Linked DNA regions of Homo sapiens. The protein of the gene in region 3 interacts with the protein of the main gene of each other region in a pairwise test. Each region holds a gene or a part of one and is shown on either strand. Other genes may lie near its edges. The genes, in order: GOLT1A, TMEM143, NAT8 and JPH1.

Evidence for each region.
Region 1: the proteins of NAT8 (region 3) and GOLT1A interact in binary tests that used the Homo sapiens proteins (3 or more experiments, as listed by UniProt).
Region 2: the proteins of NAT8 (region 3) and TMEM143 interact in binary tests that used the Homo sapiens proteins (3 or more experiments, as listed by UniProt).
Region 4: the proteins of NAT8 (region 3) and JPH1 interact in binary tests that used the Homo sapiens proteins (3 or more experiments, as listed by UniProt).

Annotation. Positions count from the first base shown.
Region 1 is NC_000001.11:204,203,844-204,211,461, reverse strand, and holds part of GOLT1A (vesicle transport protein GOT1A), read left to right. Parts: intron 1-7,618. UniProt on the Homo sapiens protein: May be involved in fusion of ER-derived transport vesicles with the Golgi complex.
Region 2 is NC_000019.10:48,353,816-48,361,433, forward strand, and holds part of TMEM143 (transmembrane protein 143), read right to left. Parts: intron 6,362-7,618; coding exon 6,257-6,361; intron 1-6,256.
Region 3 is NC_000002.12:73,639,788-73,647,397, forward strand, and holds NAT8 (N-acetyltransferase 8), read right to left. Parts: upstream 2,636-7,610; 5' UTR 2,531-2,635; intron 1,916-2,530; 5' UTR 1,842-1,915; coding exon 1,158-1,841; 3' UTR 936-1,157; downstream 1-935. UniProt on the Homo sapiens protein: Endoplasmic reticulum (ER)-membrane-bound lysine N-acetyltransferase catalyzing the N6-acetylation of lysine residues in the lumen of the ER in various proteins, including PROM1 and BACE1, using acetyl-CoA as acetyl donor.
Region 4 is NC_000008.11:74,311,211-74,318,828, forward strand, and holds part of JPH1 (junctophilin-1), read right to left. Parts: intron 4,411-7,618; coding exon 3,651-4,410; intron 1-3,650. UniProt on the Homo sapiens protein: Junctophilins contribute to the formation of junctional membrane complexes (JMCs) which link the plasma membrane with the endoplasmic or sarcoplasmic reticulum in excitable cells.

The DNA.
Region 1 (7,618 bases), on a different chromosome or scaffold from region 3:
CAGGGTGTTGCAGACCAGGAAACTGCATGTACGAAGGCCCTGAGTCAAGAGGGCTCACATGGAAGCCATGGAGAACAGTGTGGTTGGAGCATGGCAGGCAATAGGGACAGTGGCAGGAGATGAGGTGGGCAGGCAGGCCTGGGCCCCACCAGGCAGGGCCTGTGAGCTGTGGTGTGGATGAGAAGGCTCTGCTGCAGTCTAATCTCAGTGGGCAGCCGTGAAGGAGTCTAGGCAGTATGCTAACATGATCAGGTTGTATGTTTTGCAAGACCTTTGAGCGCCGTGTGGAGAAGGACTGGGAGGGTGCAGGAATAAAGCAGGAGGCCAAATGGGGGCTGCTGCATACGTCCAGGAAAGAGATGATCGTGGCCGGGAATTAGGTGTTAAGAATGGAGAGAAATGGACAGCTTTCAACATGTATCTTGGAAGAAGAAAAGAAAACTTAGCTGTGGATTTCATGGGGGAGGGGTGGGCTTCTGCGTTAAGTGGTGGGGTGGGCGGTGGTGACATGTTTACTCATTTGAGGACAACCAAGGGAGGCACAAGTTGAAGGAGGGAAGATAAATAGACCAGTTTGGGATTGAAGATTAGCCCAGTTCAAGATGGCTGAGAGAAAACCAGGCAGATATGCCAAGTAAGCAGCTAGATATGAGTTTCAAAGCCCAAAGAGAGGCATGGACTAGAAAGAGAGACATCAGTGTCATCAGCATACAAGGGAGGTTTGAAGACGTGAGAGGCTGGGTGTGGTGGCTCATGCCTGTAATCTCAGCACTTTGGGAGGATCGCTTGAGGCCAGGAGTTCAAGACCAGCCTGAGCACATTGCAAAACCCCTGTCTCAACAACAAAAAAATTTAAACCAATTTTAAAAAATTAGCTGGGCATGGTGGCCAAGTGCCTGTAGTCCCAGCTACTCAGGAGACTGAGGTAGAAGGATCCCTTGAGCCCAGGAGTTCAAGGCTGCAGTGAGCTATGATTGTGCCATTGCACTCCAGCCTAGGCAACAGAGCGAGATCCCAGCTTTAAGACAAAATTAAAAACAAAAATAAACACATGGGAATACATGTGGAAATAGAATGAGAAGAGAAGTGAGCTTGGGCACAAGCCCTGTGCAATTCAAATCCCAAGAAGAAGAGAGAGAAGTAGGAGCTGGCAGAGGAGACAGAGAAAGGGCAGTTAGAGCAGTAGGAAGAAAATCAAGAACGTGTTGTGCACAAACCAAGAGAAAGGCTGTTTCAACACGGCAGTGGTCAGTTCTAACAGATGATGGTTCACACCTGCCCATTGGATCTGGTAACATGAAGGTCATTAATGGCCAAGGCAAGAGCATTGCCTGCAGAAGTGGACTGGACTGGGTTGGTTAAAGGCACTTTTTATTTTTTGTTTTGTTTTGTTTTTGGTTTTTGAGATGGAGTTTCACTCTTGTTGCCCAGGCTAGAGTGCAATGGCATGATCTTGGCTCACTGCAACCTCTGCCTCCCGGGTTCAAGCGATTCTCCTGCCTCAGCCTCCCAAGTAGCTGGGATTACAAGTGCCCGCCACCTCACCGGCTAATTTTTTGTATTTTTAGTAGAGACGGGGTTTCATCATGTTGGCCAGGCTGGTCTCGAACTCCTGACCTCAGGTGATGATCCACCCACCTCGGCGTCCCAAAGTGTTGGGATTATAGGTGTAAACCACCGTGCCTGCCCAAAAGGCACTGTTTGGAGCTCAAGACTAAGTTCAAATCCTGCTTCTGCCAGCTGCTGTGTATCCCCAGGCAAGTGACTTAACCTCTGTGTTTCAGTTTTGTTTGTGAAATGGTGCTAATAGTAGTACCTATGTCACAGGTAGTTATGAAAATTAAATGTGTTAATATACTTAAAGCATATATGTGCTTAGACTGTGCCTGGCCCAGTATGTTCATTACACTATCAATCACTATTGCTAATTTTAAAAAGTGAATGAGGCTCTTTCTCTCCTTATTTCCCTCCTTCCTCTTCCTGAACAATTCAGTCTTAAAGCCATTAGGTTTAACACAGAGAAGGCGGTGCCCAGAGTGGGGTGTTAGAACCCCAGCAGGGTGAGAAGGGTGTTCACACTAGGGGTGGCCTGGTACAAAGTATCATAGGCAAAGCATCCCCTGCAGGGTCAGGGATGGGGTGGTGAGGGGCCTGGCAGATACTGCCTTAAGAATAAAGAAACATTATCAGCTATGGGGCAAATTGACATCTTGCACCACCTACCAGGATGCAGTGAGAAAAATACAGCATCACATCTTGTGCTATTTCTGCCTAAGATGCATAACCTGAAGCTAGTCGTGAGGAAACATCCGACAAACCCAAATGGAGGGATGGCTACAGAATAAGTGGCCTGAATCTTCAAAAGTGTCAAGGTCATGCCAAGGAAAGACCAAGGAGCTGTTCCAGACAGAAGAGTTTAAAGAGACATGATCATTAAATACCACACAGAATGATGAACTGGATTATTTTGCTATAAATGATGCTACTGGAGTAACTGATGAAACTTAAATGGAGTCTGAGGGTTGGAGGATAGTCACATATCAATGTTAGTGTCCCAATTTTGATGGCTGTATGTTGGCTGTTTAGGAGAATTTTTTGTTTGCTTGTTTATTTCAATAGGTTTTTGGGGAACAGGTGGTTGGTTACATGAATAAGTTCTTTAGTGTGATTTCTGAGATTTTGGTGCACCCATCACCCGAGCAGTGTACATTGTACCCAATGTGTAGTCTTGTATCCTTCAGCCCCTCCTACCCTTTCCCATGAGTCCCCAAAGTCTATTGTATCATTCTTATGCCTTTGCATCCTCATTGCTTAGCTCCCACTTGTGAGTGAAAACATATGATGTTTGCTTTTCCATTCCGGAGTCACTTCACTTAGAATAATGATCTCCAATTCCATCCAGGTTGCTGCGAATGCCATTATTTCATTCCTTTTTGTGACTGAGTAGTAGTTCATTTTTTATATATATATATATATATATATATACACACACACACACACAAGTATACATATATACACACATATGTATACATATACACATATGTATACATATATACATATATGTATACATATGTGTGTATATGTGTATAGATACACACATATATACATACATGTGTGTATATATGTATACATATATATGTATATGTGTGTGTATATATATACACATCACAATTTATTTATACACTCATTGACTAATGGGCATTTGGGCTGGTTTCATATTTTTGCAATTCCAAACTGTGCTGCTAGAAACAGGCATGTGCAAGTATCTTTTCCGTATAATGATTTATTTTCCTCCGGGGAGATACCCAGTAGTGGGATTGCTGGATGAAATGGTAGTTCTACTTTTAGTTCTTTAAGGAATCTCCACACTGTTTTCCATAGTGGCTATTCTAGTTTACATTCCCACCAGCAGTGTAGAAGTGTTCCCTGTTCACCACATCCACGCCAACATTTATTTTTGTTTGTTTGTTTTTTGATTATGGCCATTCTTGCAGGAGTAAGGTGGTATCACATTGTGGTTTTGATTTGCACTTCCCTGATCATTAGTGATGTTGGGCATTTTTTCATGTTTGTTGGCTGTTTGTATATCTTCTTTTGAGAATTGTCTATTCATGTCCTTAGTGTCCAGGAGTTTTAAAAACCACACCAGAGCATTCAGGGGTGATGAGGTATGAGGTGGCAACTACTTTCAAATGGTTCAAGAAAAATATTCTTTGTACTGTACTTGCAAGTTTCCTGTACATGTGTGATTGCTTTAAGAAAAGGAAAAGGGGGAAAAAAGACGATGATGTTCTGAGACTCACTGCGTGCCTGAGGCCAGAAGGACTCATCTGCCTGCTCCATGAGATATTGTTTTCTTGGAGCTGTAGCTGATTTCTGGAGCAAGAAAGACATTGAACCTGGCTTTTCTTAAAGTGAGCCACAAAATGGGGAGTCAGGGAAGCCTGGCTTGTCCGTATCGGGTGGCCATGGGCTCTTCTTGGCAGCAACTCGGGAGTTGCAGAGCAAGGAGCTAAACAAGGGCACCAGTGCAGCCATCAGTGTACCTTGCCAGGGAGATCTAAAGCTGGTCTCTGAGGTCTGGGGAGGTCTCCACTTCTAGGTGGCGCCTGGAGAGCCGGGCCTCCCTGAAGTTACCTTGGCCTCCCAGCTTTTTTCGGCTGGGTGTAGGCGTGACAGCCCTGGCCGCCTCCAGCAGAGGGCGCGCTGCCCAATCTGTCTGGATCACGGGGACCGTGCCGGGCAGGCACACCTGTCACTCCTGGGGGCATCTGTATGACATCCCCACCCCTCCACTCTTTCTGCCATGGTTGCTGCCTGAAAAGAACTTTAGGAGTAACCTCTGGCTGGATAACTTGACTAAAATAGCTAAGCTACTCCAGAAGCAAGAGGCAAAGGCGGGTCTGAAGCTTGTGTGTGAGAAACAGAGTTTCTGACCCTTTTCTGTGGGGTTTCGTGTCCCACTGAGCACTGAGAGCACTAAGTGTGGCCCATAAAGAAGGCTGCCCCCATCACAGGAGAGTCCTGGAATTGCATCTGCCCTTAAAGAAGAGTGTAGAACAGGTGGAGGAGGGATAACTATGGCAGCCAGCAAATCACTGCTGCAGAAGAAGAAGGAATAAACAGGAGAATGGACATCATGTGTGAATGTGAGAAACTTACGCTGTTTCCACAAAATGAGTATGAGGCTGTTCTTAAGTGTGTGCAGGATGAACATATAGAAAGTTCAACAAAACGAAATGAAAACCCCGTAAAATGTGCACATCGTGTTTCCACACAAATACACCTACTGAGGGGGAGGAAAGGGTGTATAGTCAGAGCTGAAATCAATGACAGATGTTTTTATGGCAGGCATAAGCCAACAACAGATATTTTATAACAAGCATAAAAACCTAAAACACTTTTATCATTTGGGTTAAAGAAAGATGACTGTGGTCTTCCTCCACAATATTCTGACCTACACGAAATTATCTTGGTAATTCAGGTAGATGTAACTCTAGATTCTCAATGTGTTGTCTCTGAGGATGGAAATGTTGACAAAACACAACCTTCATCATGACCCATGGGGGTGATATTCTGCTGAGCTGTCCCAGCTTCTAAGAGATTTAATTCAGGCCAGCAGGAGGAGGTAGAAGTAGGAAACAAGCCCAAATAGATCACGAGGCTTGTCAGGAACACAAGGAATCAGCTTTTAGTAGAAAATGGATTCTGGGCAGCTGGGTGATATGTTGAGAGAAATTATGTTACACTGGGTCCCAACAAAATCCAGCTTCTGCCAAAAGTGAGATCCAGTAAGACTGGCATGATACCAGACTATGAGTTGAGCAAGGTTTCAGTCTATAATTTGAATGCTAGATCTTATCACTGTATTTTTCTGTTTTCTTTTTTTTTGAGATGGAGTTTTGCTCTTGTTACCCAGGCTGGAGTGCAGTGGCATAATCTCGGCTCACTGCAACCTCCACCTCCCGGGTTCAAGCAATTCTCCTGCCTCAGCCTCCCACGTAGCTGGGACTAGAGACGCATGCCACCATGTCCAGCTAATTTTTGTATTTTTAGTAGAGACGGGGTTTCACCATGTTGGCCAGGCTGGCCTTGAACTCCTGACTTCAAGTGATCCACCCACATCAGCCTCCCAAAGTGCTGGGATTACAGGTGTGAGCCATTGAGCACCTGGCTTCATTGCTGTATTTTTGATGATTCTTTTAAAGAAGCTCTTTGACCTTTTTTCTGTATTGGAATTGATCCTAATCCTCTTAAAATCTGCATAGCAACAGATGATGGATTAACTACCCAGAAGATGATTATGTTGTTTCATTTTCTTTCAGTTGTAAATAAAACTCAGCCAGTAAATCTAGTCTTGATAATTTTGTTTTTGTTTTTACAATTCTGCCTCTAAACACCAGAATAATTTTTCCCCTCACTTTTAACAACTATCTGCAAAAGCATAATAATAATACCAATTTCATAGAGGTTATGAGAACTGATTCTAACAAGTCCAGTAAAATTTTTGACGAGGGCATCAAGACCATGAAATGGGGAAAGAACAGTCTTTCCAACAGATAGTGCTGGGAAAACTGGATATCCACATGCAAAAGATGCAGGTGGATCCTTACCTTATACTATCTGCAAAAAGTAACTCAAAGCAGATCAAAGCCCTAAAAATAAGAGCTAAAACTATAAAACTCTTAGAATAAAAAATAGGGGAAAGCATTACAGCACTGGATTTGATAATGATTTCTAGGTTATGACATGAAAAGCACAGACAACAAAAGAAAAAAAAGACATCAATCAGACTACATCAAAATTTAAAACTTCACCGCATCAAAGGACACAGTCAACAGACTGAAAGGTAACCTACAGAGTGGGAGGAAATATTTGCAAATCATACGCTACATAGTTAATATCCAAAATATATAAAGAACTCCTACAACTCAACAACAAAAAGAACAACCTGTTTAAAAAATAGGCAAAGGACTTAACTAGACAATTCTCCAAAGAAGATATACACATAGCTAACAAGCACATGAAAAGATCATTAATCATTAATCATTAGGGAAATGTAAGTCAAAACCACAATGTATACTACCTTATACCCATTAGCATGGCTGCTATCAAAACAAAACAAAACAGATAAAGTATTGGCAAGATGTGGAGAAATTAGAACTCTTGTGTACTGTTGCTGGGAATGTTAAATGGTGCAGTCACAATGGAAAACAAAATGGCAATTCCTCAAAGAATTAAAAATAGAATTACCATGTGATCCAGTATAATTCCGTTAATTCCACTTTGTGGGGTATATACCTGAAAGGATCGGAAGCAGTGTCTTGAAGAGATATTTTCTTATGCTCATATTTATGGTAACACTATTTACAATAGGTAAGAGATGGATGGAAGCCACCCAGATGTCCATCAACAGATGAATGGATCAACAAAATGCAGGGTACAGATAGCAATGGACTATTATTCTGTTTTAAAAAGGAAGAAAATTCAGACACATGCTACAACATGAAGGAACCTTGAGAACGTTATGATAAGTGAAATAAGACAGTCACAAAAAGACAAATATTGTATGATTCCACTTATAGGAGGTTCCCAGAGTAGTCAAAAATTCATAGAGAAAGTAAAATGGTGGTTGTTGGAGGCTGGTGGGAGGGGAATGGGGAGCTACTGTTTAATGGGTGTAGAGTTTCAGCTTTGCAAGACGAAGAATTCAGGAGATGCGCTTAATACCACTGAACTGTACATTTTTAAATGGTTAGATGGTAAGTCTCATTTTATGTGCACGTTGCCACAATTTAAAACTTAAAAAGGTAACAATTTAAAAACAAAGCAACAGAATGAATTTTTATTTATTGACTATCATAGTGGCAAAGATAAGTAAAATGAACAATTCTGAGTGCTGGAGAGGGTTAAGGAAAAAAGGAACTATATATCCGGTTATTGTACAAATCGTCTTGAGGGGAGCGATCTGAAATATGTTTATCAAAATGTCAAAAATGTAGCCCTTGACCAAACGAGGGGGCCTTCATGTCCTGCACTTCTAGGCTACGCTTGCTGGCTCTGAGTGAACTCCTGCAGCTTCAAAGAATGCCCTGAGACACTTACAAACCTTGGGAAT
Region 2 (7,618 bases), on a different chromosome or scaffold from region 3:
ACAGGAAGATGGAGACAGGGGTTGGAGTGACTCATCTACAAGCCAAGGAGCACCAAGGGTTGCTGGCAGCTACAGGAAGCCAGGAGAGACACCATAGATGCTTCCCTCTCAGGGCCTCCACAAGGAAACATCTTTTAATACATTTCACTTCTTTTTTTTTTGAGACATAGTCTCACTCTGTTGCCCAGACTGGAGTGCAGTGGTGCGATCTTGGCTCACTGCAGCCTCCGCCTCCCGGGTTCAAGTAATTATCCTGCCTCAGCCTCCGGAGTAGCTGGGATCACAGGCATGTGCCACCACACCCAGCTAATTTTTGTATTTTTAGTAGAGTCGGGGTTTCACCATGTTGGCCAGATTGGTCTCGAAATCCTGACCTCATGTGATCCACCTGCCTCGGCCTCCCAAAGTGCTGGGATTATAGGCGTGAGCCACCGCGCCCAGACTTTTTCTTTTTTTTTTTTTTTTTTGAGACATAGTCTTGCTCTGTCACCCAGGCTGGAGTGCAGTGGTGCGATCTCAGCTCACTGCAGCCTCCGCCTCCTGGGTGCAAGTGATTCTCCTACCTCAGCCTCCCGAGTAGCTGGGACTATAGGCACCCGCCACCACACCCAGCTAATTTTTGTATTTTCAGTAAAGATGGGGTTTCACCATGTTGGCCAAGCTGGTCTCGAACTCCTGACCTTAAGTGATCCGCCCACCTCGGCCTCTCAAAGTGCTGGAATAACAAGCGTGAGTCACTGTGCCCGGCCAAATTTCACTTCTGTACCTTGTTGCTGGTCTCTTCCTCAGTAGAACAGAGCCTGTGAGGTACATCTCTCATGCTGTCCACTGTCTCCCAGAGCCTCAAGCCATTCCAGAGACACAGTAGGTGCTCAATAAATATTTACTGAGCGAACTCAATGAATGAATGAATCAGCGAAAAAAGATCAGAGAGAGGTCACCCGCCAAGGTCACCCGCACCACTAGTGAACAACCAAGCTATTGTTTGAACCGAGGCTATGCTGCTTCTTTCCCTGCCCAGGCCACATCTTCAAAGGACTTAAGTCATCAGCAAATGGTCACCCAGCGGGCCTCACCCGCCTCTGCCACTTCTACCCTGCCCCTGCCTCTGTTTAAAATCTCCTGCCTGGGAGATATATGCTTATTCACTTATGTTCTTTCTACATTTCTATATATTTATACATTTCTATAATAAAATAGGCTTTTTTTAACTTTTTTTTTTTAAGAATCTTGCTCTGTCACCCAGGCTGGAGTGCAGTGGCGTGATCTTGGCTCACTGCAACCTCCACCTCCCGGGTTCAAGTGATTCTCATGGTTCAAGTGATTCTCATGCCTCAGCTTCCTGAGTAGCTGGGACTACGGGCACCCCCCACCACAACCGACTGATATTTATATATTTAGTACAGACAGTTTCACCGTTTGCCAGACTGGTCTCGAACTCCTGGGCTCAAGTGATCCGCCTACCTCGGCCTCCCAAAGTGCTCAGATCACAGACAAGACATACCAAGCCCAGCCTTAACTTTTAAAAAAATAGAAAAAGAAAAAAACAACCGTGGCTCCAGAGGCCATAGGTGCCCTGTGGAAGAGCTTGGAGGCAGGCAGACGGGGGCTTGATCTCGACTCCACCAATTATGAACTGTGTGATCCTGGGCACAACCCGGGCCCTCTGAGACATTCAGTTTCTCCATGTATGAATGGGCTGATGGCGGCTGTCTCTCCGCACTGCAGGAAGGAGTCAATAAGCCAGACACAGCAAGCGCTCAGCAACAAGGGGCTGTGATGGCCACTGTTGCTGGGGTTGTTATTATTCAAAGCAAAGTGCGGAGCTGCAGAAGGCAGTGGTGGGATGTGGCGAGGGGTGAATGCAGCAGGCCTGGGTTGTCCAAACCCCGCACATTCCAAAGAAAGGACCGGCCCTGGACCAGCTTCTGGGAGGGAACCTCTAAGCCCTTGGAATGTCCTGACTGATAAGAGTGTCTTGGTTTACCTGGGGCCTGGGGCCACACTGGATGCTGTGTGTTAATGTTGTCATCTATGGTCAGGGCCTGGAGCCACTGAGCATCAGTTTGACCTCGGAGGGGCTGGAGTCTCAGGTCAGCCACCATGCATATGTGACTGACCCCCAGTAAAAACCCTGGCCACCCAGGCTTACAGGAGCATCCCTGGTTGGCAGTACTGCTTGCGTGTTGTCACACATCTTGCTGGGAGAATTAAGTGCCGTCCATGACTCCACCGGGAGAGGACAGCTGGACGCTCACGCCTGGTCTGTCTTGGATTCTGCCCCATGTGCCTTTTTCCTTTTTTTTTCTTTTTTTTTTTTGGGATGGAGTCTCACTCTGCTGCCCAGGCTGGAGTGCAGTGGCACAATCTCAGCTCACTGCAACCTCCGCCTCCTGGGTTCAAGTGATTCTCCTTCCTCAGCCTCCTGAGTAGCTGGGATTACAGCTACTGGGATTACAGCGCCACTATGCCCAGCTAATTTTTGTACTTTTAGTAGAGACAGGGTTTCACCATGTTGGCCGGGATGGTCTCGATCTCCTGACCTCGTGATCTGCCAGCCTTGGCCTCCCAAAGTGCTGGGATTACAGGCGTGAGTCACCACGCCCGGCCCTCCTTTTTTTTTTTTTTTTTGAGACAGAATTTTGCTCTGTCACCCAGGCTGGATAGTGCAGTGGCAAAATCTCAGCTCACTGCAACCTCCGCCTCCTGGGTTCAAGCGATCTCCTGCCTCAGCCTCCCAAGTAGCTGGGATTATAGACATGCGCTACCAGGCCCAGGTAATTTTTTTTTTTTTTTTTTGAGATGGAGTTTCACTCTTATTGCCCAGGCTGCAGTGCAATGGTGCGATCTTGGCTCACTGCAACCTCCTCCTCCCAGGTTCAAGCAATTCTCCTGCCTCAGCCTCCCGAGTAGCTGGGATTACAGGCATGCACCATCACACCCAGCTAATTTTGTATTTTTAGTAGAGACGGGGTTTCTCCATGTTGAGGCTGGTCTCGAACTCCTGACCTCAGGTGATCCGCCCGCCTCGGCCTCCCAAAGTGCTGGGATTACAGGCGTGAGCCACAGCACCTGGCCTTTTTTTTTTTTTTTTTTTTTTTTTTTTTGAGATGGAGTCTCACTCTGTCACCCAGGCTGGAGTGCAGTGGCGCGATCTCGGTTCACTGCAAGCTCCGCCACCTGGGTTCAAGCGATTCTCCTGCCTCAGCCTCCTGAGTAGCTGGGATGACAGGCACATGCCACCACACCTGGCTAATTTTTGTATTTTTAGTAGAGACGGGGATTCATCATGTTGGTCAGGCTGGTAATTTCTGTATTTGCAGTAGAGACAGGGTTTCGTCATGCTGGCAAGGCTGGTCTCGAACTCCTGACTTCAGCTGATCCACCTGCTTTGGCCACCCAAAGTGCTAGGATTACAGGCGTGAGTCACCGCGCCCGGCAGTACTACCATCTATTAATAGATCCTCCCACAGCAGTTTCTCAGCCCAGACCTCTCCCTTCACCTCCAGATCCACATATTCAAGTCTATCTTTCTTTTTTTTTTTTTTTTTTTTTCTGAGACGGAGTCTCACTCTATCGCCCAGCTGGAGTGCGGTGGCGCAATCTTGGCTCACTGCAAGCTCCGCCTCCCGGGTTCACGTCATTCTCCTGCCTCAGCCTCCCGAGTAGCTGGGACTACAGGCGCCCGCCACCACGCCCGGCTAATTTTTTTTTGTATTTTTAGTAGAGACAGGGTTTCACCGTGTTAGACAGGATGGTCTCGATCTCCTGACCTCATGCTCCGCCTGCCTTGTCCTCCCAAAGTGCTGGGATTACAGGCATGAGCCACCACGCCCGGCCTCAAGTCCATCTTTCTACCTGCCTTTCTAAAAGGCAGCTCAATGGATAAAGAAAATATGGTCTATATACACCATGGAATACTACTCAGCCATAAAAAGGAACAAAATAATGTCTCTTGCAGTAATTGGATGGAGTTGGAAGGCCATTATTCTAAGTCAAGTAACTCAGGAATGGAAAACCAAATAGCCGTATTCTCACTTTATAAGTGGAAGCTAAGTAAGCTATGAGGGTGCGAAGATACACAGAGTGATATAATGGAATTTGGGGACTCAGGGAGGGGGGTTGGGATGGGGGTGAGGGACTACATATTGGGTATAGTGTACACTGCTCTAGTGATGGGCACACCAAAATCTCAGAATGCACCACTACAGAATTCATCCATGTAACCAAAAAGCACATGTACCCCAAAAACTACTGAAATAAAAAATGTTTTAATTAAAAAAGAATGGGCCAGGCACGGTGGCTCACGTCTGTAATCCCAACACTTTGGGAGGCCAAGGCAGGTAGATCACGAGGTCGGGAGTTTAAGACCAGCCTGAGCAACATGGTGAAACCCCATCTCTACTAAAAATACAAAAATTAGCCAGGCGTACTGACACACGCCTGTAATCCTGGCTATTCGGGGGACTGAGGCACAAGAATCACTTCAACCCGGAAGACAGAGGTTGCAGTGAGCCAAGATCGCACCATTGCACTCTAGCCTGGGCAGCAGAGTGAGACTCTGTCTCAGAAAAAAAAAAAAATATATTAGAATAAATAAATTCATAAATAAATGGTAGCTCAAATTCTTAAGTCCAAAACTGAGCTCTCAGTCCTCCCTGCAGATCTTTCTCCCCATCCCACCACGGTCTCCCCCATCCCAGTAAATGGCAGCTCCATCCTCCAGGAGGCTCAGGCCAGAACTGCTGGAGACGCACCCCTACTCCTCTCTCTTCCTCCCCAGAACACCCCCACAGCCAGCACATCAGCAAAACGCTGATGCCTTCCAACATAACCAGCATCTGACCGTTTTTCACCATTTCCATCGCTATTACCCTTGTCGGAGCTTCCATTATCTCTCCCCTAGACAAATATAATAGACTCTTTCATAGATGTCCCTGCCTCTGATAGTCTGTTCCCTACACTGCAGCCAGAGAAATCCTGTTAACACCTAAATCCGCTGCTCACATCTCTCCTCAGCTCAGAGCCCTCCCATGGCTCCCGGCTCACTCAGAGTCAAAGCAAGGTCCTCGGCCTGGCACAGTGGCTCACGCCTGTAATCCCAACACTTTGGGAGGCCAAGGCGGGTGGATCACTTGAGGTCAGGAATTCAAGACCACCCTGGCCAACATGGTGAAACCCAGTCTCTACAAAAAGTACAAAAATTAGCAGGGGGAGGTCGTGGACGCCTGTGGTCCCAGCTACTCAGGAGGCTGAGGGAGGAGAATCGCTTGAACTGGGGAGGCGGAGGTTTGCTGTGAGCTGAGATCGCACCACTGCACTCCAGCCTGGGCAACAGAACAAAAACTCCATCTGAGAAACAAAAACAAACAAACAAAAAAACAAAGCAAGGTCCTCACAGTGGCCCACAAGGCCCAGTACGATCTGTCCCCATCCCCTCTGCCCTCATATCCCACCCTCCCCGCACATTCACTCTCCTGCAGCCACAGTGGCCTCCTCACTGTTCAATACTCCAGGCCTCCACTCACCTCAGGGCCTTTGCACTTGCTCTTCCATCTGCCAAGAACATCCTCCCCCAGGCATTCATCAGGCTCGTTCCCCCTCTTCACTAAGCCTTTAGCCCACATGTCACCTCCTTGGGGAGCCCTTCCCCACCCACCCCGTCTGAAACAGGCCCCATCTCACCCCTCTTTGTTTTTTTTTTTTTTTTGAGACAGAGTTTCCTCAGTCGCCCAGGCTGGAGTGCAGTGGCGCAATCTTGGCTCACTGCAAGCTCCGCCTCCCGGGTTCATGCCATTCTCCTGCCTCAGCCTCCCGAGTAGCTGGAACTACAGTCGCCCCCCACCACGCCCAGCTAATTTTTTTGTATTTTTAGTAGAGACGAGGTTTCACCGTGTTAGCCAGGATGGTCTCGATCTCCTGACCTTGTGATCCACCCGCCTCAGCCTCCCAAAGTGCTGGGATTACAGGCGTGAGCCACCGCGCCCGACCCATCTCATCCCTCTTTATCTCACTACTCCGCCTCATTGTTCATGGCACTTATCACCACCAGGCATCATATTTTATATTTATTTGATTCCTTGTCTCCCCACTTGGAATGTTGGCTCCATGAGGGCGTCACTTCACCTGTCATGTTCACTATTGAATCCCCAGCACTTAAAATAAGGGCCAGGCTCCAAGAAGGTGTCAGGGAATGTTTGCTAAATGAGCGGATGCTCGAACAAGCACCACAGGGCTGGAAGGGCCCCGTCCTCACCTGCAGCCGGGCCAGGATTTGGTGGTAGTGGAACAGGGTGCAGAAGTCCACGTGGGCCGAGAACGCCTCCAAAGCCGCCTTCTCTGCCGGACTCGAGTGGAATTCCTGTTACCTCAGGAAGCAAAACTTCTCTGTAGGCCTTTTCCCCTTCCCCGAGGGAAAGAATTCTTTCCCTGGCTGCCTAACTACACAATCAGAGCTCTGGACTTTGAAGTTTTGTTCTGGGGCTGGGCGCAGTGTCTCGCACCTGTAATCCCAGCACTTTGGGAGGCCGAGGCAGTGGATCACTTGAAGTCAGGAGTTCAAGACCAGCGTGGCCAACATGGTGAAATCCTGTCTCTACTAAAAATACAAAAATTAGCCGGGCGTGATGGCATGCACCTGTAGTCCCAGCTACTCAGGAGGCTGAAGCTGGAGAATTGCTTGAACCAGGGAGGCGGAGGCTGCAGTGAGTCGAGATCGTGCCACTGCCCTCCAGACTAGACAACATCAAGACTCTGTCTCAAAAAAAAAAAAAAAAAAAGTTTTGTTTTGGTTGGGTGGGGGCTGACCAATTTTACTGAAACTGAGGCAGCCAAATATAGTGAAAAACTATACTGGGCTTAAAAAGCTGGAGGTTCAAGTTTTTGCTTTGACATTTCCTAGCCAATACACACACACACAATTCCAGGAACGGTTTGACAGTGTAATATCATCCTCCAGAAGTAGATGGAATTATTATTATTATTATGTTGAGACAGAGTCTCGTTCTGTCACCCAGGCTGGAGCTCAGTTGTGCAATCTCAGCTCACTGCATCTTCAACCTCCTGGGATGAAGCGATCCTCCCACCTCAGCCTCCTGAGTAGCTAAGACTACAGGTGCCCACCACCATGCCTGGCGAATTTTTTTCAATTTTTTGTAAAGGTGGAGTCTCACTATATTGCCCAGGCTGGTCTGAACTCCTGTGCTCCAGCAATCCTCCCACCTCAGCCTCCCAAAGTGCTGGGAGGCTGAGCCACCATACCCCCAAGGTTGATGGAATTATAACTCCCATTTGTCAGTGGGAGAAACTGAGGCTCTGGAAAAGTCATTTGGTAAGGGCTGCAGTGTCTGTGGGAAATGACTGCTATCTAGGCCTGTCTGACTCCAGGGTACACATTGAACCATTTCCTTTTTTTTTTTTTTTGAGAAGGAGTCTCACTCTGTTGCCAAGGCTGGAGTGCAGCGGCCATGATCTCAGCTCACTGCGACCTCTTCCTCCACGGTTCAAGCAATTCTGCCTCAGCCTTCTAAGTAACTGGGATTATAGGCGCCTGCCACCACGCCTAGCTAATTTTTGTACTTTTAATAGAGACGGGGTTTCACCATGTTGGCCAGGCTGG
Region 3 (7,610 bases):
TCAGGAAGGGATGGTTTCATTTTGCAATGTGAGATGACATGAGATTTGGGGGTAAGGGGCAGACCAATATAGTTTAGATGTTTGTTCTCTCCAAATCATATGTTGAAATATGACCCCCAATGTTAGAGGTGGGGCATAGTGGGAGGTGTTTCGCTCATAGGGGTGGATTCCTCATGAATGGGTTGGTGCTTTGTCCATGATAATGAATGAGTTCTGGCTCTATTAGTTCACATGTAAGCTGGTTGTTTGAAAGCACCTAGCATCTCTCTTGTGTGCTGTCTCGCCATGTGACACATCTGCTCCCCCTTCAGCTTCCAACATGAGTAAAAGATTCCTGAGGCCCTCACCAGAAGCAGATGCCTGCACTGTGCTTTTTGTACAGCCTGCAAAACCATGAACCAAATACACCTCTTTTCCTTATAAATTACCCAGTCTCAGGTATTCTGTTATGATCCCCTGGAAGAGTTATACTACTTCCAGGTCTAGCCCATGGTAAATCCCACACTCCCCTCTGAGGCCACCTTCTTCCCTCTGCAGAGACCCTGGAGTTAGAGTGGATTGGTTGTGTCTCTGGCCCCAATTCTTCTCCCGAGGCTGCATTCCACCCTTTTGCTATGTGACTTTGCAGCCCTTCTCACTGCAGAGACAGGTTCCTCTCCTTGAGTTTGGGGAAGATGCAACACATGCAGGGGTTTGAAAACACATTTGTTTGTTTCTGCTTTTGTTTTTGCTCCTCTGCAATTTCCTTGAAACCATGCCTGAGGTAGCCTGTGGGAAAACGAAACAGCACCATTGACCTAGTCTTTCAGCCAATCCCACTGCATTTGTACAATGCAGTCTGACACCAGAGGAACTGCCCAGCCAAGCTCAGGCAAAATTGCTGACTTCAGACTCATGAACTAAATAAATATTTGTTTCATTTGGTGGTTGTTCTTATGCAACATTATGCTGGCACTAGAAAAATGAAACAGATGGGAATCAAAAAGACTGAATGAAGCAGAAACCCAGAAGCTACCCCACAAGCAATCACATGGGACTCAGATGTGAATGGACAATAAGCTTTTATTGCATTGAAAGGTCATTGCAGTGAAAGGTTGGGGATTGCTTGCTGCTACAGCTGAATGGATTCTATTCTGACCAATACACACAGAAAGAGATCACAGACTCCCTACCTTAGAAGAAGGGAGGTGGTAGATGAAATGAACTGTATGAAGAGCCACTAGCCTGGCCCACACACAGAAGAAGGACTGGCCCGTCTTCTTGAAGCCCATGCTCTGGTAGAGGGCCATAGCAGAGAGCTGGATGGTGCCGGTGTCCAGGATAACTTCACTGTAGCCCTGGTCCCGGGCAAACTGGAGGACAGTCCTGACCAGGGCTTTTGCTATCCCCTGACGACGGTGCTCACTGTCCACAAAGAGATGAAACAGCTGCAACCGCTTCTCCCTCAAGGTGGGATCATCAACAGGCAGAGCTCCTACCATGCCCACCACCTTCTCTTCAGACTCAGCCACCCAGAAGCAGGAGCCACGCTCACTCAGGTAGGATTTGGTAATGTCAGACATGTCTGTGCACAATGTCATGTCCACATACTCCGTCCAGGGTTTTTTGGCAAGGAACCACAGGGCAGGGAAGAGGCTGATGCTGAACACGAGGGCTAGAAGCCAGGATCCAGAGACCAGGAGTAGGGCGAGGGGCCCCCCAAGTAAGAGTATGAGGGTTCGAGGCAGCTTCAGCAATTGCCGGAAGGTGGCTGGGGCATGCTCGGCCATCCCCCGGGAGAGCAAGCCCACAACCCACTGGCGGTCGCTCTCCTGGTATTTGCGGATGTGACAAGGAGCCATGGACAGACTTCTGTGTCTGAAATCTCTAAGTCCAGGAGACAGAGCTAGGCCTCCCTGCACGCCTTTACGTCAGACTGGGGAAGAGAGAGAAAATCATGTGAGTGCCTGCATGGCTCCCAGCCTTGCAGGAACAGGGAGACCTGCTCAAGGGTGTGTCTTTCCGCGTTTGCCCATGAGGAAGCAGGCCTCTGCCACTGGGAGAAGGTAGGGTCAGAAAGACCTGCATTGGAATCTGGTTCCATCCCTTTCTAGCTGTGTGACCTTAGGCATGTCACTTAACCTCTCTGAGCCTCCATTTCTTCAACTATAGAACAGGGGAGAAGAAAACCTGCCTTCTAGAGTTGTTTTGAAGATTGAATAAGATGCCTTCTATAAAGCCCTGGTAGATGAACTACCCACCGCTCTTCCTTTTTCTGTTTCCTTTTTCTGGCTCTCTCAGCTTCTCCGTGCATTGAGGGGGCACCTACCTCAGGCAGGCCACACGTGCAACCCTTTTGTCCTTCTCCAGGGACCATACATCGCAAAAATTCTCTGTCCAACACAAGTTTCAGGAAAGGCTCCCTCCAGCTTTATTGTAAGTTTTTAGGTTGCTGAAGTGGCATAAGAGCCAAGCATAAAAAACAGCCCAGCCTCCAGATCCCAAGGAAGGTGCATGCTCAGAGCACTGTCCTTCCACCCAGTCCCCTCACCTGTCACCACAAGAGCCTTGAGTGTCCAGGGAGCTTCAGCTCTCAGCCGCTCACTGGCATCCAGGAGATACCGTCTGGGGCTTGCTCACCCCTGGAAAGTAGACTGCCTGCCTTATTGCTTGGCTCCTGAATGTTTGGTAATCATCAACCCTAGGGTCAAAGAGCTGGGCTGTAACACAGCAGGGAGCCCAGTGTGCATTCCTCTTTGTGGTCAAAGGGAACGACCTGGAGGGGGAGACTCAGGGTCTGGAACCGCCTGGGTTCCTTGCCCTTCTGGAAGGCCTGCCACCTCTCTTGCCTGTTCAGGCCCCGTGCATCTCTCTGCCACCTGGCACACTTAGTACTCTCGGTCCCTGTCCACATATACGATCCACCCTGGTCCTTGTACACATATACGACGAGCCTGAGAACTGTACCATTCACCCTGCAATCAGTCACCATTGGCCAGAAGCCGAGTCCCCATGCTTGGCAACAAGGCCCTTCCCAGCTAGGCTTCTCCTCGCTGAGGTTTCCCTGGTCCACGAAGCATCTGTTGTTGGCAGTTCCTTGCACTCACCTCACCAACCCCCATCTCCACCCATTCATTGATTCAGTCAACAGTTGTGTGTCATGCACTTCCTGTGTCCTGGGGTCATTTCAGCCATGAGCAAGGTTGACATTCGGCTTGACAGGCATGGCTGTGTGTGGCTTGTGTGTGTTCTGGCTGTTGGTCAGAGGCTGTGCCACACCCGTTGTTAAATATTTTGCACTGCAGATGTTGGGGAGGCCCAAATTCATGCTCTTGTACCCGACGTGGAGCTGATCCCAAACACTGACACATGGGTGCTTGGAGATAGAGAAAGTTGTATTCGATTTGGCCAAAGCAAGAAGGCAGGAGAGCAAGATCTCTCAACTTCAGTTCAACAAAGAAGCAGCAGCAGAATGTTTTTATGCAGCTAGAGAGTGAGGAAGGGGGAGTTCAGGGGGATTGAGAGGAAAAGTCTGTGTTTCCTCAGTCTGAGATAACACCTTGTGCAACCAGGCTTCTCAGTGTCAGCAGCTGGTCACAGTGTCCTTCAAGGCATTCATTCATTCTGCAAACTTTTCCTGACCCTGAAGGAATGTCTTCCTGCTGAACAAAGAAACAGTACATGAGCAGTTTATCATTATGTTGTGGGAACAAGGAATATTGGACCAAAAGCAAGTGGTTAACATGTGCAAGCCAGCAACGGTCTGATCAGAATGTTCATTATTTCAGTCACTAAAACATGGTGTGGTGCTGAAATCTCAAGGGGCCCAATTACAAGGATGCAACATATACAAGATAGGCAAAAGCAAAACCTAACAGAAAAAGCCCTTTTCCACACCAACTTACATGCTATTGAAGGGAAACTTCCCTTCCAAAGATTAGCTAACCTATTGATGATCAGCCACGCTGGGCCCGTCATCTAGGTTAGGTAGTTTGGACTCTATTCCAAGAGCAAGGGGAGGACATTGATATGCACGGAGGGGAGGAGGTGTGTGTGTGTGTGTGTGTGCGCACGCAAGCATCACTCTGGCTGCAGGTGGACAATGGATCTGAGGAGGTAGGAATGGAAGCAGCTACCCCTCAAGGCTCATGCCACATCCAGGCAAGAGCGGGGCCTCCAGTACAGGGATGCAGGTGCTCACTGTACAAGAGCAGCTGGCCCAGAGGCTCTGGTGGGAGCTAAAACTGGGCCTCCCTCTGGTTGCCAAGCCATGAGCCATGGCACGAAACTGAGACTGGCCAAAGGAAAAGGCAACCTTTTCTTATTTGCTCAAAGGCGTTGCTTGCCTGCTAAACTCTGCATCCAGTGGGCTGCATGGCTTGAGGCTGTGCCTAGCTCTGGGTTCACAAAGAAGCCGCCTGGGTTAGCAGAGGCCCATGAGACAGCAGTGGCTTCACCAGAGGGAGGAAGTCAAGAAGGTGAGACATGAGCCGTATGGAGGTGCATTTGGGGCAGAAATGGCAGGAGTTGGAATGATTCACACAGGGAGGAGGATGAGGAAGGGCTCAGAGACGACAGCCAGGCTTCTGGTAGGGGCATTCAGGAAAACACTGGAGAGAGCCCAGATCTGGAAAAGTCAAGGCTTCCCCTAAAGGTGCTGCCCTGCAGCCTTCTTCAGCAGAAACCAGAAGCTGGGAGTCAGCAGCAGGAACCCAGGGCCAGCCAGTGGAGGCTGCTGAGATTCCAGATCTTTGGTACCCAACACCACCTCCGAGGAAAAGTCTAAGGAGCATCAAGTCTGGGCAGGAAGTCCATGGCTCATCTTTAGAGTGTTCTCGCAACATTTCAGTGTCAAGCAGGAGTTGGCCTAGGAATCAAAAGAGGTGAGCGGTGGCTCCAAAGCACCACTGAGTACTTCTAGTGTGAGTCTAACCAATATTCAGTCAGAAACCTGCCGGTCACGTGGAGGGGGAGAGGTTTGTGCTCCGTCCCTGTGTGCTGTCTCTCCCTCCATGCTCACCCGTGGCTGTGGCTTCCTCAAAACACAGCGACCTCACTTGACATTCAGGCGTCTCTTGCTCCCAGGATTTACTGTGACTTCTGCATTTTTGTAGCTTTCCTGATAAAAGCCTGGGCTTTCCTTGTCGGACCTGAAAGATTCATTTATTCATTCAACAAACAGTGGCCGAAGGCTTGTTATGTGCTGTGCCTGGACTTGGCATGAAGGCACCAGATGTCAGAAGCGAGGCTGCTGCCCAGGAGGACACACCTGATGGGGCTCTGGGACCAGGACGATGGTGGAGACATCACATCCGGAATAACTTTGTTAGGAAGGTGAACTTGACAGTTAGGACTTAGTTCTCCTTGAAGACGTCCTTCACATCCCTTGTGAGTTGGATTCCTAGGTATTTTATTCTCTTTGAAGCAATTGTGAATGGGAGTTCACTCATGATTTGGCTCTCTGTCTTTTATTGGTGTACTTGTGATTTTTGCACATTGATTTTGTATCCTGAGACTTTGCTGAATTTGCTTGTCAGCTTAACGAGATTTTTGGGCTGGGATGATGGAGTTTCTTTTGTGGGCATTTAGTGCTATAAATTTCCCTCTACACACTGCTTTAAATGTGTCCCAGAGATTCTGGTCTTTGTTCTCATTGGTTTCAAAGAACATCTTTATTTCTGCCTTCATTTCATTATGTACCCAGTAGTCATTCAGGAGCAGGTTCAGTTTCCATGTAGCTGAGTGGTTTTGAGTGAGTTTCTTAATCCTGAGTTCTAGTTTGACTGCAATGTGGTCTGAGAGACAGTTTGTTGTAATTTCTGTTCTTTTACATTTGCTGAGGAGTGCTTTACTTCCACCTATGTGGTCAATTTTGGAATAAGTGCGATGTGGTGCTGAGAAGAATGTATATTCTGTTGATTTGGGGTGGAGACTTCTGTAGATGTCTATTAGGTCTGCTTGGTGCAGAGCTGAGTTCAATTCCTGGATAGCCTTGTTAACTTTCTGTCTCGTTGATCTGTCTAAAGTTGACAGTGGGGTGTTAAAGTCTCCCATTATTATTGTGGTGGGAGTTTAAGTCTCTTTGTAGGTCTCTAAGGACTTGCTTTATGAATCTGGGTGCTCCTGTATTGGGTGCATATGTATTTAGGATAGTGAGCTCTTCTTGTTGAATTGATCCCTTTACCTTTATGTAATGGCCTTCTTTGTCTCTTTTGATCTTTGTTGGTTTAAAGTCTGTTTTATCAGAGACTAGGATTGCAACCCCTGCCTTTTTTTGTTTTCCATTTGCTTGGTAGATCTTCCTCCATCCCTTTGTTTTGAGCCTGTGTGTGTCTCTGCACGTGTAATGGGTCTCCTGATGGTCACACTGATGGGTCTTGACTCTTTATCCAATTTGCCAGTCTGTGTCTTTTAATTGGAGCATTCAGCCCATTTACATTTAAGGTTAATATTGTTATGTGTGAATTTGATCCTGTCATTATGATGTTAGCTGGTTATTTTGCTCATTAGTTGATGAAGTTTCTTCCTAGCATCGACGGTCTTTACAATTTGGCATGTTTTTGCAGTGGCTGGTACCGGTTGTTCCCTTCCAGGTTTAGTGCTTCCTTCAGGAGCTCTTGTAGGGCAGGCATGGTGGTGACAAAATCTCTCAGCATTTGCTTGTCTGTAAAGAATTTTATTTCTCCTTCACTTACGAAGCTTAGTTTGGCTGGATATGAAATTCTGGGTTGAAAATTCTTTTCTTTAAGAATGTTGAATACTGGCCCCCACTCTCTTCTGGATTGGAGTTTCTGCCAAGAGATCAGCTGTTAGTCTGATGGGCTTCCCTTTGTGGGTAACCCGACCTTTCTCTCTGGCTGCCCTTAACATTTTGTCCTTCATTTCAACTTTGGTGAATCTGACAATTATGTGTCTTGGAGTTGCTCTTCTCGAGGAGTATCTTTGTGGCGTTCTCTGTATTTCCTGAATTTGAATGTTGGCCTGCCTTGCTAGGTTGGGGAAGTTCTCCTGGATAATATCCTGCAGAGTATTTTCCAACTTGGTTCCATTCTCCTCATCACTTTCAGGTACACAAATTAGATGTAGATTTGGTCTTTTCACATAGTCTCATATTTCTTGGAGGCTTTGTTTGTTTCTTTTTACTCTTTTTTCTCTAAACTTCTCTTCTCGCTTCATTTCATTCATTTGATCTTCAATCACTGATACCCTTTCTTCCAGTTGATCGAATTGGCTACTGAGGCTTGTGCATTTATCACATAGTTCTCATGCCATGGTTTTCAGCTCCATCAGGTCATTTAAGGACTTCTCTACCCTGGTTATTCTAGTTAGCCATTCGTCTAATCTTTTTTCAAACTTTTTAGCTTCTTTGCGATGGGTTTGAACTTTCTGCTTTAGCTTCGAAAAGTTTGATTGTCTGAAGCCTTCTTGTCTCAACTCGTCAAAGTCATTCTCTGTCCAGCTTTGTTCCGTTGCTGGCAAGGAGGTGTGTTCCTTTGGAGCGGGAGAGGCGCTCTGATTGTTAGAATTTTTAGCTTTTCTGCTCTGGTTTCTCCCCATCTTTGTGGTTTTATCTACATTTGGTCTTTGATGATGGTGATGTACAGATGGGGTTTTGGTGTGGAGGTCCTTTC
Region 4 (7,618 bases), on a different chromosome or scaffold from region 3:
TAATGATGAACTAGTGACTTCAACAGCAGCAGCTACCAAGAGACTTAGTTTCTAGTTTTTCTTCTGTCTGCACTGGGCTAGGTGGGAAGAGTGTCATCTTATGTTCTTAAATTTTCAGTAGTTTTACAAACAAAAACATTGATAACAGCAACCATAGAGGGGTCAGATAGATGTTCTGTACAGATATTGTGTAGATATTCTGGCATTAGAAAGAGCCATGGTTAATGACAATAATGTAGCTAAAAGTCCTATCTCCCAGGCAGCAAATCTTAAAAGAATCTTTTCTTATTTTTAAGGCTTTTTAAAATTTTTTATTTTATTATTATTATACTTTAAGTTTTAGGGTATATGTACACAATGTGCAGGTTAGTTACATACATATACATGTGCCATGCTGGTGTGCTGCACCCATCAACCCATCATCCAGCATTAGGTATATCTCCCAATGCTATCCCTCCCCTCCCCCCACCCCACAACAGTCCCCAGAGTGTGATGTTCCCTTTCCTGTGTCCATGTGTTCTCATTGTTCAATTCCCATCTATTAGTGAGAACATGTGGTGTTTGGTTTTTTGTCCTTGGGAAAGTTTACTGAGAATGATGAGTTCCAATTTCATCCATGTCCCTACAAAGGACATGAACTCATCATTTTTTATGGCTGCATAGTATTCCATGGTGTATATGTGCCACATTTTCTTAATCCAGTCTATCATTGTTGGGCATTTGGGTTGGTTCCAAGTCTTTGCTATTGTGAATAATTTTTAAGGGTTTTAAAAGACTGTAGAACTCTAAAATCAGAGCTATTATAAGGGGAATGTCATTCCTTTAACTGCTTCCTCCAAAAACAAGTTACAAAGCTGTAATCGGAAGTATTCATTATATAATAGCAAGGAATCTGGGAAAAGGACTAAAACAGTGAAGGTAAGTAAAATATAGAAGGTTAATTGAATATATTTATTTTTAATTTGTTGATTGTGTCATCCGAACAGTATTTTATTTATTGTTGTAAGAACACTTAACATGAGACCTACCTTCTTAACAAATTCTTTTTTTGTTTTTTTTGAGACAGGGTCTTGCTGTGACACTCAAGCTGGAGTGCAGTGGCACAATCACAGCTCACTACAGTCTCGACCTCTGGGGCTCAAGCCATCCTCTCACCTCAGTCTCCCAAGTAACTAGGACAGGTGTGCGCCACCGTGTCCGGCTAATTTTCTTATTTTTTGCAGAGACGGGGGTCTCACTATGTTGCAGAGATTGGTCTTGAACTCCTGGGCTCAAGAGATCCTTCTGCCTCAGCATACCAAAGTGCTAGTATTACAGGCATGTACCATAGCACCTGACCTTGACAAATTCTTAAATGCAAAATGCAGTATTGTTAACTATAGGCACAGTGTTGTAGTGCAGATCTATAGAATGTATTCATCTTGAGTAACTGAAACTTCGTATCTGTTGAACAGCAACCCTCCATTTTCCCCACCCTACAGTCCCTGGCGACCACCATTTTACTCTATGTTTCTATGAGTTTGACCATTTTAGATCAAGTCAGGTCATTGCAGTATTTGATTAAGTGAGATCATGCAGTATTTGTTTTTCTGTGACTGACTTCTTTCATTTGCATAATGAATTAAGCATTTTAAACATAGCTAAGTAACTATGAAGTAACTAACTGGCTAAAAGTATAAGGTCTTAAACTAAAGATCTCTTGATTATAACTATATAATACAGTATTCCCAAATGAAATAATACTACCCCCAAAAGACTTGCAACAGAGAGAACATGGCTAGGACTTGGGTGAGGGTTTTATGATACTAGCATAATCAGAGATCATCTCTGCATTGCCAGTCGCTTTCTGTTATACAAACTCCTCCAATGGAAACTAATGATAAGTCGTTTGTTAAAGTGTTCTGCACAGGTTCATTTTTCACCTCCCAAGACTGAGCTGACTTTAGCATGTCACTAAGTTGTAACAAGAAAACATGGAAGAATCCAAGTGTGCATTTAAAATTAGAGGTCAAGGCCTAACAAATGTTTATCACTAGGTCTAAAAGTAAGCCAGCAAGATTAGATGTGCTGAGTATCTGATCTATAAGCAAACTGAAAAGCAAAGTAGATCCAAAACTGTGATCTGAAGTAAAAGATGCCTGGTAGAGAAGACAGGAGAGAGAGAGACCCTTCATTAAAGTTTGTGCTGATCAACAAAAAATAATAGCTTTGAAATGAAATTAGTTTGGGATAAAGATGAAAACCTTGAAGACTTTTAATATATAATATAATATATATCTAAAAGTAATGCAAAATATGCAACCTTATTTAGTGGTAGCCCTACTTATTTTTTAAGTAGAGGAATTAAAAAAAAAAGAACTCTAGAAGTACTAAGTTGAACCATATGATGTCACCATTTTTTTTTGTACATTAAAAAATTTGAACATTGGAAATTTCATATGGCTCCATCAAAAAAAAGGGAGGTTCATTAATTCAATGCCAATAACAAAAACCTGAAGACATGCTAACATTTTGTGGTTTCAAAAGGGCGTTTACTTCTGTGGAAGAGTGTTATTGAAGCAGAAACAGGATTTTTAATATTCTATGCTACATTTATGCTTCAAGTCTTACAAAGCTGTGGCTAGTCAGTACTCACTTAAATAAGACTAAAAATAAAATTTTCCATTTATTACCACACCTTTTTCTTTTTGTCTCACCTATGATATCCTTCCCTAATAGAACTTTATTCCCAATAGATTTTTCCATCCCTCTTGCTGGATCCCTGAAACCAGCTATTAATGGTAAAACTTCAAGCACGTAGTCCTTCTGTGCCCACACATACACCCCACTTGTCAATCTATTATTCACCGGTTTTCTCCTACTCACTCCAGCCCTTCTCTACTGCTCTTCTTTCTTCCAACCTTGGCACATTGAGAGTCCCATCTGTCCATGTCAGGTTGTCAGGTTCCCTCCACCCCTTTCCTTTTAATACACCAGTGACCTAATCTCTTCTGCATAGAATGTGGCGATTCTTGTAGGTCTCTTTGCCTTTCCCATGTAGCTGTTGTTTTTAACAATGCATGCCAGATTTTGTCATGTTATTTTCCACTTTTGCCATATGTAGATTTTGGTGGCTGTCTCAAAACCAATTTTACCTATAAGACTTCATAAACAGAATCTGAATTGTATAAGCTAGGCTAAGTGTACATACCTCCGATGTAAATATCAGAATAAAGGTACACATCTATACTAAGTATGTTTCTACGTGGATTGCTATTTTCTTTTGGTACACAAAACACAATGCTTGCTATGGCAGCATTTCAGAGGTCCTTCTTACAAAAAAAAGAAAAGAAAACAGCAACTTTCCGGGCTCAGGAAGATGAGCACAGGGTCTCAGTGAACTCCCTCACGCTGTTAAATATGAGGGAAGTAATTTAGAACAGGAAGGGGAGCTCAAAGTGCCTTCGACATTTTTTGATGATGGGAAGTTTCAGAACAGTGCAGGTACATTTCTGACTTTGATTCTACTGAGTGTAATCATTTTTCACCTTTGATTTTTTAGTAGTTGTAGAAAGCATTTAGCGATGTCACTGGCAGATAGACAAACATAATATTTGATACTCCATTGTTCTGACCAACCCAGCAAAACCAACCACCCTGCATTTACTTACCTTGAATTTGCTATTTCCACTTTGGTTCTGGCCATGGCAGCTGCCCTTTGGGCGCCTTCAATTGCTCTGTCCACCTTCTCCCTAGTTTTTGTATGTCTTATTGGTATAAGCTGCTTCCTTATCCCACGGACCAGAATATTATTTTTGTATTTTCCCTCTTCTTTGGAGCCGTCAGGAAACACGGTACAGCCATATCCATGCCTCTTGTTATTTGCCCACTCCCCTTCATACTTCATGCCATTGGAGCGCTCGCTAACGCCGAAGCCGTTGCGCTTGTCGTTCTTCCACTCGCCCATGTAGGTTTCCGTGGTGGTGGCGTCCACGTGGTCTTCCACCGGGCAAAAATCACAATCTACATCGCCAAAGCTGATCGTGGAGTTGGCATCGCTGGAACTAATTCTGCTCATGGCCGCGTCGCTGCGGACAGAGCTGCGCTTGCTCGAGATGGAAGACTTGGATTCGGACTTGCGAAGTTTCATGCTTCCAAGAAGGGAGCCCCTCCGGAAGAGGCCGCCCTTCTTCTTGCCCGCTAGCTCAGCGTCTGCGTGGAAGTTGAGCACGAAACCGCCGCGGGTGCCGGCCGGGCTGTCGGCGGCGGCTGCGGCGTCGTGGAGCACGCTGCCATTGCTCTGCTCGCTGCGCAGCGAGGCCAGCGAGGTACGCAGCGGTGAGCGGATCACCGTGGCCATGCCGTAGGGCACGCTCTGGCGCACGCCGTAGCCATGCCGCATGCCTCCGGCCCACTGGCCCTGGTAGGTACCTTGGAGAGACCGCAAGAAAGCACCGTGAGTCGGGGGCAGAGCTGCACCGTCACCTGCACCATCCAGCGCACACTGGCGCAGGCCTGCCCAAGGTCAAATCTGACCCATTTCCAAGTCAACCCTGGGGGATACTTTGCATCCACTTGTGAATCCCCGCCCTGTAATTTTGGGTGTAAGGCTTTAATGTCATTGCACAGAATTTTCTAGTAGTCAGATAATTTTTGCTTTTCATTAAAATTTTATGCAAGTATTTCAGAGGAAAACCACTACTTTCTAATACAAAAAGTGAACACTGGGAAACAACATTCTCCTCTGAAATTAATGCATCAAAAATTCCTCTTGGGAAGAAGACAAGGAAACAGTAGAAGATGAAATGAATTCTATGTGTAAATTTTATTCTAATATTACTAATTTAGCTGGAAAACTGTAAAAAATGACTTTTAGGTCTATGTCAGTATAACATTCCAAGAAGTATACAGGCTTAAATCGGAATACTTGGGACACAGTCATCAAATGAACGTCTTAAATTTTCTGCTACATTCAGCATCTCTTTTTTTAGTGTAGACAAAACTGTTGAATATTCAGGATTATCATTTGAATTTGGGTGAACCTTTTTGAGCTAAGAGAGAATCGACAACCACAATATATATTATGAATACAGTGAATTATGAAAAAAATGAGTAATTTAACATTTTTGTGCTTCTAAGTGAAAAGGCCAAAGCTTTGTGCCGTATCATTTGCCAAATCTCTGCATCCTCTATGGATTTCCCTAGCTGCCACTGCATTGTGAATCACACCACAGACTAGAAGCACCCTGAGGGCAGGAATTACTTCGTATGAGAACACAAAATTCTCATGTGTCCTCTGGTCTGTGTTTGTGGATGGAGGGTGTTTGATGACTATGTTGACGGTAAAAAGCTATGGTGGCTAAAAAGTATACCCTTTACTCTTGGAGAAACTGATGTAAGGCCAGATGAAATCTTCTACTGTTACCATTTTGGACTTCATCTCAGAGGAAAGGTATATTTGACACTATCTATTAAAATGTTGATACCAGATGACTCTGTCAACAAATATTATGCTTTTTCATGATAGTCTGTCATCTAGAGCATTTGTAGTGAATTTTTTGCTACTAAATAAATAAGCAAAGACATTAAAAAATAACCTGGTACAGGTTTTAAAATAATCTTAGGAGGAAATGAATGTTAAATTAGGGAATTTAGAAGTTTCTTTTCAAAATCAATTTCCTTTAATTAAGGGTAAATTTTAATTTACAGTATCCCTCAAAAGAAGCTATCTGGAAAATTTAAAATGTAATTACTTCTGTGTTATTCATAACAATTCACAATGTCATAGAAAACAAATAATGATTAGTCTGTCTTGACCTCTTTCCATTTCTGATTATATAGATCTACCCTGCAGTCACTTTGCATTTTATATTTCCATGCACAGATTTCCATTGCATGGCACATATTCATTTTCAAAACACCGGGCAAAAATGCTAGTGGTTTTATATAACTGTGTTAACAATGGCTGGTTATTTCATTGCACTTAAAAGTTAAAACCATAATGACTCCCAAGTCAACGGTTTTGACCAATTTCAAGACTACCTTCTCTTTTTGTTCATTCTGGCATATGTGACACAGGCAATAGTAGATATACAATGAAATACTAAGTGGGTCTGGTACTGTAAATGTCATATTCTGGGTAGATGTGAAGTCTTAACTTGACATCTATGAACTTCTGAGGAGGTGGGTGGCCCACAGTTTTCTCTGAAAGATTAACTCAAGAGGATAAGATAGTCATGTAAAACATTTCAGGCTAAGAAGCTTCCTATTGAATACTGGCCATCTCCAAATACCGCCATCTTAACAGGAATGGGAATGGAATTATTAGGAAATTTTGACTTTGACTTTTCCTTTGCCTATACAGGTAAAATTTAAATTCTAGGATGAAAGTTTCACAATCTGGCTTGAAGATACTAAAATAAACCACCTTATTTTTAATATTTTGTTGGTTAAAAGAATGCTATAATCACATCCTCCTAACTTTTGTCTATAGTGACAAGTTAATTTTGCTAGAACAATTTGCAGAGATGCTGTTTGATATCAATAAGTATCTGCACTTTTAAAACACAGCCATACCATCTTGGTAAATGTTTAACACTGATGGAAAATTAACAGCTAGTTTCTTTAAACTGTTATCTCCAAAAATAAGACTAGTACAGTATTTAGAATTTCCAAAAAAGTATGGCTTGAAAATCCAAGCTGTTTAAGGCAACAGCAATAATTAGAAAGTTTAAGTCTCTGCTTAACTGTCAAATAGGGAAGGGGGGGACAAGAGCATTGGCCACATTCCTCTCCTATTTTGTTAAATCACAGTATATGAAAGAATTCCTCCACAGAATTGCTAGAAACCAATTTGCAGTCAAACTGTTAGCAGTTCATCTGAAATTTAAAATAGGTTTAGTTTAGTCAATGAACCTAGAATAAGAAAGGGCCTATTTCTTTATGAAGCAGGTGGGTTCCAACTTCTCCCTGCTGCTCAAATAAAGTTCTAATTAGTTCCTCTTGATTCCTAAAATGTAGATGCATATTTCACAAGTATAAAAATTACTTTTACCAGTTTTAAACTGTGTTCATTTGGGAGCTAATTTTTTAGATTTAGTCATTTTAACTACACAATCTTGTAGTGGAAGGCATCCAGTTTAGGAGTTTCAGTCAAATTTGCACTGCACTATGCCAAACTTCAGTTTATATGCTCCGAATGGGTATGTGCAAGTATGCATCTAGTTAACAAAACGTTGTGTTTTCCCAGATATTTTCAATAGTTTTATGACAAGTGAAAAAACAAAGTACAGATCAGAATTAGCACAAAAAATTCTGGGCACCTAGACTTGGATTTCATGAGTATGATACTAACTTATTGTTAATATTCAGGGGGTTTCTATTTCAGCAACATGTAATACACAAATCACTAATAAAATAAGTGATACGTCTCACATGGAATTACTGCTTCCTTCCTCCTCCAGTTTAATGTCACCACAAAAAAACTCGGAATCAGATTTTCCCTGAATCTGATACAGGGTGTACAGGGATGGACATGTGGCGATGGGGAGAGTGCAAACAAAAACAAGCTAACTCCTTAGTGAGAACAGCAGAAAACAAGCTAATTTTTTAGTGATATTCCTATTTTGGCCAAAACCTT